3 linked regions of the Homo sapiens genome follow. The protein of the gene in region 1 purifies or fractionates together with the protein of each later gene. This does not show direct contact. Each region holds a gene or a part of one and is shown in the gene's direction. Other genes may lie near its edges.

The links.
Region 2: the proteins of ZP2 (region 1) and INTS7 purify together in Homo sapiens (affinity purification with mass spectrometry; one large-scale study listed by BioGRID and IntAct). This does not show direct contact.
Region 3: the proteins of ZP2 (region 1) and RHOBTB3 purify together in Homo sapiens (affinity purification with mass spectrometry; one large-scale study listed by BioGRID and IntAct). This does not show direct contact.

Annotation. Positions count from the first base shown.
Region 1 is NC_000016.10:21,199,103-21,201,574, reverse strand, and holds part of ZP2 (zona pellucida sperm-binding protein 2 isoform 1 preproprotein), read left to right. Parts: intron 1-16; coding exon 17-206; intron 207-1,696; coding exon 1,697-1,832; intron 1,833-1,908; coding exon 1,909-2,005; intron 2,006-2,472. UniProt on the Homo sapiens protein: Component of the zona pellucida, an extracellular matrix surrounding oocytes which mediates sperm binding, induction of the acrosome reaction and prevents post-fertilization polyspermy.
Region 2 is NC_000001.11:211,976,422-211,980,081, reverse strand, and holds part of INTS7 (integrator complex subunit 7), read left to right. Parts: intron 1-1,570; coding exon 1,571-1,810; intron 1,811-2,537; coding exon of another isoform or gene 2,538-2,636; exon of another isoform or gene 2,637-3,250; intron 3,251-3,362; coding exon 3,363-3,500; intron 3,501-3,660. UniProt on the Homo sapiens protein: Component of the integrator complex, a multiprotein complex that terminates RNA polymerase II (Pol II) transcription in the promoter-proximal region of genes.
Region 3 is NC_000005.10:95,755,178-95,758,837, forward strand, and holds part of RHOBTB3 (rho-related BTB domain-containing protein 3), read left to right. Parts: intron 1-218; coding exon 219-584; intron 585-3,660. UniProt on the Homo sapiens protein: Rab9-regulated ATPase required for endosome to Golgi transport. Involved in transport vesicle docking at the Golgi complex, possibly by participating in release M6PRBP1/TIP47 from vesicles to permit their efficient docking and fusion at the Golgi.

The DNA of each region.
Region 1 (2,472 bases):
TACCATTCAATTTCAGATAATTCCTACCAACAACCTTATGGGGAAAACGAGTACCCTCTAGTGAGATTCCTCCGCCAACCAATTTACATGGAAGTGAGAGTCCTAAACAGGGATGACCCCAACATCAAGCTGGTCTTAGATGACTGCTGGGCGACGTCCACCATGGATCCAGACTCTTTCCCCCAGTGGAACGTTGTCGTGGATGGGTAGGTACTCCCTGTACTATCAGGTTACCCAGCTAATCCATCAAAACTTGCCAGTAATGGGAATAAACCCTCTTGGGCTTTAGAGCAGCATTCAGTCATGTGAGATCCAGATTTAGTCCTTGTTTTCTAATTGGGACTCTTCTGCCTTCTGTTTTTTTTTTTTTTGTTTTGAGATGGGGTCTCATTCTGTCACCCAGGTTGGGGTGCTGCGGCATGATCTTAGCTCACTGTAGCCCCTGCCTCCTGGGTTCAAGCAATTCTCCTACCTCAGCCTCCTGGGTAGCTGAGATTACAGGGGCACACCACCAAGCCCAGCTAATTTTTGCTATCTTAGTAGAGACAGGGTTTTGCCATGTTGGCCAGGCTGGTCTCGAACTCCTGACTTCAGGTGATCCACCTACCTTGGCCTCCCAAAGTACTGGGATTACAGGTGTGAACCACCACACTTGGCCACATGCTGCCTTCCAATCACCTCTTGAATCTTAAGGAATGAGTTCCAAAGCCCCAGAAAGTCTGACTCTACTATGGTGTTGATCATCTGGAAAGACTGGTCTCTAGCCTCTATCCATCTGAACACCTACCATATGCCAGGCACAGTGCTATGTATTCCACATCCACTAGTTGTACTAGTCTTCGTCTTTCATGAAGAAACCCCAGCTTGCTGCCTAAATAACCAGCCCAAAACAATACTTAAACAATGGAGCTTGTATTAGAATATCCATCTGACTCTAGAATCTGAGCACTGATGCTCTGAGGTTGCAGCCACACACTTGTACACATAGGTGTTCAACCTTACAGCTCTCCTGCCGTGTCCTGTCCTACAACTGGATCTCACCCATTCTTATGGAATAGTGTGTACTTGGCTAAAACTGCACCTTTGCTTTCTTGAAGCTGTGGTAGCTCAGTTACTAAGCCTTCTGTTTTGTTTTTGAGACGAGGTCTCACTCTTGTCCCCCAGGCTGGAGTGCAATGGCACAATCTCAGCTCACTGCAACCTCCGCCTCCCAGATTCAAGCGATTCACCTGCCTTAGCCTCCCAAGTAGCTGGGACTACAGGTGCCTGCCACCATGCCCAGCTAATTTTTATATCTTTAGTAGAAACGGGGTTTCACCATGTTGGCCAGGCTGGTCTTAGACTCCTGACCTCAGGTGATCTGCCCACCTCAGCCTCCCACAGTTCTGGGATTACAGGTGTGAGCTACTGCACCTGGCCAAGAAACCAGTGTCTTCTGAAATGATATAATTTGTACTTCTCATGTAGTTGGCAAACAGGTACTGCTAAAATAGTTAAAATATAACTAGTCTATACAACTTATGATTTCATAGGTATTATAGGTCAGGTAAGAAATGCTGAGTAAAACAAAGGTGCTGGTAGAAGGTAAATATGGCAATAGTTCTGAAGATATTACGTATGACTAAATCTGGGCAGACATTGAATTTGACTCCAAGATGCATATGACTGACATCCCTCCCTGGTGCATACCTCCTAGCTGTGCATATGACCTGGACAACTACCAGACCACCTTCCATCCAGTCGGCTCCTCTGTGACCCATCCTGATCACTATCAGAGGTTTGACATGAAGGCTTTTGCCTTTGTATCAGAAGCCCACGTGCTCTCTAGCCTGGTAAGTGATTCAGAAGTCACCAGGGACAGGTTAAATGTTAGTGCATCGATTCCATGTAACTCTCTTCTGTCTCCAGGTCTACTTCCACTGCAGTGCCTTAATCTGTAATCGACTCTCCCCTGACTCCCCACTGTGTTCTGTGACCTGCCCTGTGTCCTCTAGGCACAGGCGAGGTAAAAACTTCAAATTCCTGTTTCTGTGAGTCTAATTCAAAGCAAGTATCAACTTTTTAGAATAGAAGATCTTAAGGACTGGTATAACTCATACTTTATTTACTGCCCAGAGCTCTTGTTGGCCCAGTCAAAACTTGGTCCAGTCTACCTTACTCATGTGACAGGTCTAAGATGAACAGTTTCTTGTCTAGTTCTATAGACGATGAGTTCTTTAAGAATCTATCCTTTTTTTTTTTTTTTTTTTTTTTTTTGAGACAGTTTTGCTCTTGTTGCCCAGGCTGGAGTAAGATGGTGTGATCTTGGCTCATTCCACCTCCAGGGTTCAAGGGAAATGATTCTCCTGCCTGAGCCTCCCAAGTAGCTGGGATTATAGGAACCCCCCCAACATACCCAGCTAACTTTTATATCTTTAGTAGAGACAGGGTTTCACCATGTTGGCCAGGCCAGGCTGGTCTCAATCTCCTGAC
Region 2 (3,660 bases), on another chromosome or scaffold:
TTTTTCCAACAATTGTGGGTGTCAGTAAAATGCTGGATTCAGCACAGTGGGACATACATAGATGGCCAAGAAAGGTTCCTGTAATAGAGGAGCTTCCCATCTAGAATAGGCTACTGATGTTTATATAGGGGACTATAATACCAAGCGGAACACAATACATTCTCTGATATTTCACAAAAAAAGTGCAGTTCTAATGAGAGGTCAGAGTCGGGAGTGATTAACTTTAACCAAGGGTATTAGGGAAGACTTTAAATAAATGTCATATGAGTTGAGTTGTGAAAGATGGAATCGAATTACAGTAATGAGGAAAGATTGTTTGAGCCCAATGACTGCTGTTATAAAAGACTTGAAAGTAAGAATGTACCTGTTGTGGTGGAAGAATGGTGACTAGCCCACTGTGGCTGGGTGAAATAATTTGAGATTTGGAAAAGTAGTTCAGTCATAGAGGATATCAAATAACATGGTATTATGGCTTTGATTCTATAGGTAATGAGGAGATAATATAATTTTAAAGTAATGGTAACCTTTGTCGTAATTATTATTGTTATTTGAATGTCTATTATGTGCCAATCTTTGTTGAAGACTTATATATACATTTGTTTCAGTCCTTCAATAACCCTATAATGAAATGTGTTCTCCTCTTATACACATCAGAAACTTAAGGCCGAGAGAGAGAAGTACCTTGTTCAAAGCCACCTAGCTAATAAGGGGCAAGCTGAGCTTCAGCCCTTGCATTTATCAGACTCTAAAGTTATGTGTGTGCCTGACACCCCACTGATGGCTACATGGCTGCATTGTGAAGGATGGATTGAAGGGCCCATCTTTTCAAGAAATTGGAATTAGGAAGAGATTTATGATGTGGTAGAGAGAATGGAAAAGTGCCAACAGTGGATATTGGAGGCTTGACAAAAGAATCTGTTAGCTATGTAAAAGTGGGAATATTTCTAGGTTTCTAGTTTTTTGGCTGGATATTAGTGATGCCTTTAAGAAGGCCTTGGTAAGAGAAATTCTGTAGCCAAATTGGTTTTTAGATTTCAGTTGAGAAATAAGAGAAAATTGGGAACCTCTTTCCCACTTCAGTGTACTTAGAGTCATCTAAGCCGTCTTTTTAAAACTGTGAAACCTCAGTAGCCTCAACACACACACACACGTATGTTAATTCAGGAATCTATATTTTTATTTTCATTCTGGGAGATGCTGGCATAGTTTACAAGCCACACTTCAGAAGCAGTTCCTGAAAAGTAATGATAATACAGTGATGGTGACATTTGGCCTATATTTGCCTCTTCAGCATTATTCCTTATGATTTCCATCTTTCTTAAAAGTATTTTAATAGTCTTAGATTGAAATGAGTGGTTGACGTGCAGTCCTAATTTGTTATTTTAAACGTAGTGCACTTCACAAACCCTAATGTGAGATTCAGTACCTCATATTTCTTATGAAGTAAAATGTTATGCCTACAAGAAACCTCACCCTTGAGTTTCCCCAGTAACCTGTACAAAGCTCTTTTCCTTAAAGCTTCATCTGTATCTTCAAAATGTAACTAGTTCATTTTCTTTTTGGCGTGCAGATTGCTCTAAACTGTATGGTGAAGTTGGCCAAGGGCAGGCCCCATCTTAGCCAGTCAGTAGTTGAGACCTTGTTGACTCAATTGCACAGTGCTCAAGACGCTGCCCGGATTTTGATGTGCCATTGCCTGGCAGCCATTGCCATGCAACTGCCGGTGCTGGGTGATGGGATGCTTGGTGACCTCATGGAGCTGTACAAGGTGATTGGACGATCAGCCACAGACAAGCAACAAGAACTTCTGGTAAAAAGCCCATTTTGAATCTCCTTTGAATGACTAGGATCTGGTCTAGTGGGAATTACTTTTAAGTCAACATTACTATTTGACTTTACTTAAAAAACAGAACAAACAATAGGTTAAATTCATTACCTAAGACCAAAGAGTGTGCTGATGTCAAAATAGAATTGGCTTTATGAGCTTTTTACTTTTTTCACTTTTGATTTAGAAAGCCGTGTTTTGTTCACCTCTAAAACTGCTTTCTTCCGAAACCCTGTCAAATCAGCCTAGTATAGCCAAAGCCTTCAATCTCATGTTTTTTTTTATTGCAAAGGACAGAATGAAAATGAAATTTTTATCTTTCTTATACAGAGTAAATAATGAACTAAACCCTGTTTTGTACTTTAGAAAATAGAAGTTAAAAATCTAATGATAATAATGACCATAAATTAGCCCAAATTTATGTTTTCCATTCCAGGACCTCTTTAGCTGTTTAGGATCCAGTTTAGGCTTCTGTAGACCCTTGAGGTTGGGAAAGGTACATGCTTAGAAAGAAACAGAAGCTGTGGAAGCTATAAAATGTTTAGTTGAAAAGTTCTGCAGGACTGAGAGTAGGCTACATTCTAAATAATTGTAAATTAAATGAAAGTTGTAAGGTTGCCATTCCATATTGTTCTGTTCATCTTAATTTAGAATGTGGGAAAAAATATAATGAAATAATTTATTCAAGCCTGTTTTATGTTTAATCCTCCAGAGGGAATTGTGTAAAAGATTGACCCCATCCCATCATTTGCTGCCAGAAAAGGTTACCTTGATGACCAAATGTATGGATCTTTATATGAATCAGCTTTGAAATATTAAGAGGCAGTTAGCTAAGTTTATTTTTTATTGAAGTGGCATTTTGAACTAACGGTCCTGATATCTTTTTTGTGAGTACTACCTTAAGATTGTCTTAAATTATGAAACATAATATTCAAAAAATCTGAGGAATAATACAGTGAAAACTCTTGCATTCATTATCTAGCTTAAGAAAAAGGTATTAACAGTTTAGTTGAAGCCCCCTGTTTACCTTGCTGATAGCATCTCCTCCCTTCTCTCAGGTAACCACTATCCTGAATTTGGTATTTATCATTCTCATGCCTGTTATTCTTTTACTACCAAAGTGTATATCCCTAAGTAATATGCAGTATTTTGCATATTTTTAATTTTATGTAAACTTTATCATACTACTTGTAATCTTTTGCATTTTGCATATTTTTGCGTATTTTGCTTGTCATCTATGTTGGTAAGTCTGTCGCTAGTTTATCCATTTTATTTACGTATCTCATTGTTTGATTATGTTATATAATTTATTCATATTATGGGTATTGCTTCTACTTCTTTGCTGTTATAAAGAGTGCCCTGAGTGAATGGAATAAATTAATGACTTCAAAATAAAAAATTAAATAAATGTCATTGGAAAACAAATTTTGTTCTTTTGCAGTGGGCTCTAATTAGTTTTCCTCCCTTTGGGGTAGGTTATCAATGACACTGAATAAAATTAAATGATTTTCTTGGTTTTCTTCTTGCCCAATGTTAGGTGAGTTTGGCTACTGTGATTTTTGTTGCAAGTCAGAAGGCATTGTCTGTGGAAAGTAAGGCAGTAATTAAGCAGCAGCTTGAAAGTGTCTCCAATGGATGGACTGTATACCGTATTGCCAGACAGGCTTCCAGAATGGTATGTGTTACCCTTCTGAGTGAACTGGGTTGCTGGAAATGTCAGATCATGTATCTTCAATTGTATGATTATTAGTTGTAGTCAAAACTAAAAATAAAGATGGAAGTACCTTTTAGTCATGGGTTCTGAAGATGAGGAAGGAAAGGACCTGATTTTTAAC
Region 3 (3,660 bases), on another chromosome or scaffold:
CTGAATAATTAGTTTATATATGTTTATAAATTAGGTTAAGCAGTAGTAGAAAATCGCTGTTTTTGTGCATCAAAAAATGGTTAAATATTGGCTGTTTCTTATGCTTTAACCTAATAATATTTTAAAATATTATACAATTATATTTAAAGTAAACATGAAATTGTTGGGTCTGTAAACCTGAAAGGAGTTTATTATTTTTATTTTCTTTTTCAAAACAGAAAAAATGCCTGTCTTAAAGGCTGAAGCGTCACATTATAACTCTGACTTAAATAACTTGCTGTTCTGCTGCCAGTGTGTGGACGTGGTATTTTACAACCCCAATTTAAAGAAAGTTGTAGAGGCCCACAAGATCGTTCTCTGCGCTGTAAGCCATGTTTTCATGCTGCTTTTCAATGTGAAGAGTCCCACTGACATTCAGGATTCCAGTATCATCCGAACTACCCAGGATCTTTTTGCTATAAACAGAGATACTGCATTTCCAGGTGCTAGCCATGAATCTTCAGGCAACCCACCATTACGAGTCATTGTTAAAGACGCCCTCTTCTGTTCTTGTTTATCAGACATCCTTCGCTTCATTTATTCAGGTATCTTGTCAAGTGGTTCTGGTTACTTACAATCTCATAAGCTTTGGAAATGAAATGTGCCTGTGACACTCAAGGGTACTGGTTAGTTTTACAGTGGTCTTTACCTACCATCTGAGATTAAGATTATACATGAAATATTATTTGCTTTATATATAAGAATTGGTCCAAGCTTTCTGTTTTCCTTACAAATGTACTTGCCTCATCTTTTCCCTATCAATTTCATTTTATTGTGGTAAAATACATAGAACATAAATTTTACCATCTTAACCATTTTTAAGAACACAGTTCAGTGGAATTAAACACATTCATAATGTTGTGTAACTATCACCACCATCCGTGTCCATAATTCTTTGCATCTTATAAAACTGAAACTCTATACCCATTAAACGATGATTCCCCATTCCGACCTCTTTCCAGCCCCTGACAGCCACCATTCTACTTTCTGTCTCTGTGATTTTAACTCTCCTAAGTGCCTCATGTAAGTGGAATCATACAGTATTTGTCATTTTGTGATTGATGTATTTTACTTAGCATAATGTCTTAAAGGTTCATCCAAGTTGTGGCATGTATCAGGATTTTCTTCCTTTTAAGGTTGATAATATTCTGTAGTACATATAGACCACATTTTGTTTACCCATTCATTCATCCATGGACGCTTGGGTTGCTTCCACTGTTTTAGCTATTGTGAGTAATGCTGCTGTGAACATAGTGTACAAATATCTCTTTTGAGACTCTGCTTTTATTTTATTTTTTGCATATATACACAGAAGTGGAATTGCTGGATCACATGGTAATTCTGTTTTTGATTTTTTACTGCCATACTGTTTTCCACACTAGCTATACCACTTTATGTGCCTACAAACTGTGCACAAGGGTTCCAATTTCTCCACATCCTTGCCAACACTTGCTGTTTATTTTTTTTAATAGTAGCCATCTTAATGGGTTTGATGTGGTATCTAATTCTGGTATTGATTTGCATTTCCCTAATGATTAGTGATATCAAGCATCTTTTCATATGTTTTTGTATTTGCCTTGGTTTTAAATCTACTTGTAAAAACCATAATCTGCCAAACAAGTATGTTAATATTTTATTTCTTTAAAAAACATCCAAAATATGAAATGTGAGAATTTATTGTCCAATTTAGTTTTAAAGACATAAAATATTCCAAGAGTAAATGAAATCAAGTGTCTACACCTTAAAACCTAGCTATTCACTCTTCGGTTTGACTCTTAGGTTTTGTAGGGCGTGAAAGAGAGAATTGCATTCAGCTTACGGACTGGAAATCAATATCCAGTGTTAGTTGAGGTCTAATTAACTTTGGCTATGACTATCATAGACGTTACTTTTTTTTTTCCTTACTGTGCCCTTTCTTTTTAAGATTTAGCTTATCAAGTATTTTTCTCTTTGCCCTTTTAAAAACTCAGTAGCAACTATATTTTAAAGATGGAAGTTCTATCTGAGTCATTTTAGCAAATGAATTGAAGGTCTTACATCTAAGTGTCCCATGTAAGAGTGGAAAAGAACAGATGTAAAATGAATTTTAATGTAAGCATCTAAATATAAGTTTTCTCAGAACTCCTGTCTTTAATTTTCTTTACCCACTTCAAATCATGTAGCGATAACCTGTTAGGCTAAGGTCACTCCTGCTCTGCAGTGTGTCTGGAGAAACATTTATAATTAATTTGTTTTTAGGGTTCAAGTAAAGCCTAATTGGGAACAGACAAAAAGTTTAAGGTTTGCAAGGCAAGTATCATTTCATACAGGTAGGGAAATTTGGGGCAGCCTTTATTTAAGTAATTGATGTTAAAAATAAGGTATTACTTTGTTCATGTGGTTTGTGGTCATGTAATTTTATAAGTTAAAACTTAAATTATGATTTTGAAAAGTACAGTTGCAGCACGCAGATTTATGTGGATAAAAAATACATATTGGAGTAGAATGTGGTGCTAGGTTAGTGAAATATTGGCTTGGAAAAAGCATAAATTAAGCACCTGTACAGCACACACCCAGCACATTGCCTTCAACGGGTTCTCTGTAAGTTTTAGTTGAATTAAAGAGTAGGCTCCAGTAGCCGGGCATCATCATATCAGTAAGCCAAACTATTTAAAGACTTCATTTAGTACTATAGATTTTGACGTTTAAACTTAGAATGTCACAGTTCAGAATTTAAGATTTTGAAAAACTAACATGTTTACATGTTAAGAGAAAAAAGATGTTTTTAATCATATGTTTAAGGAACTGTGAGGGATGTGACTTTTGTATGATAATTTTCTGTTGAAATTACATGAATTATTCAGTAGGCTTCCACAATTATTATTGACTACTTTCAAAGGCATATGAGCACTCTGACGTCTTATATCCTTTTTAACATAGTAGCAGTAAAATAGCTAGATGTATCTCCAGTGGCTGATCCTGCCTAGCTTTCTCCTAGGGGGAGTGCTTTATTTAATTGCAAAATTAATACAGGCAGATGGAAAAAAAGAGAAAGAAAAGAAAAAAGTTATCCTTCTACCCTAGACCCTTTCCCCGGAGTCATTTACCTGTTGTAATTTTTTTATGCACTCATTCTGATACTGTTTGAAAGAGATTAATATTCTGGGGACATTTGATTAATAAAAGTGTAATCCTAGGTATCTGCTGCTTTCCAGGGATCACAGGCCGTTTCCCATGGCTGGAGCGTAGAGTGAAAGGTGATGGCTGGTGGGTGATGAGGTGGGCAAGGCCTGTGGAAGCTGTTCCTGCTGCTCTTAGACTTGTGCTAGAGTTTTAAGCATGATCAGACTGGGCTTTAGAAAGCTCATCTCTGGTTGTGGTTGCAGGGTGGAACAGTGCGGCCAAGACAGGCATTCAATCAGGAGGTCCCATTACTCTGGCGATCAGCCTCAGGAAGGCCAACATTCAGACAGTGGGTGGCCCTGCCATTGGCCCTTCATCGTCTAGACCAGTGCTTTTCAAACCTTAAAGTGTGTGCAGATCATCTGAGGATCTTGTTCCTGTGGAGATTCTGATTCAGTTACCTGGAGTGGGGCATGAGATTCTGCATTTCCAGTAGTCTCCGAGGTGGTGCTGGATCTC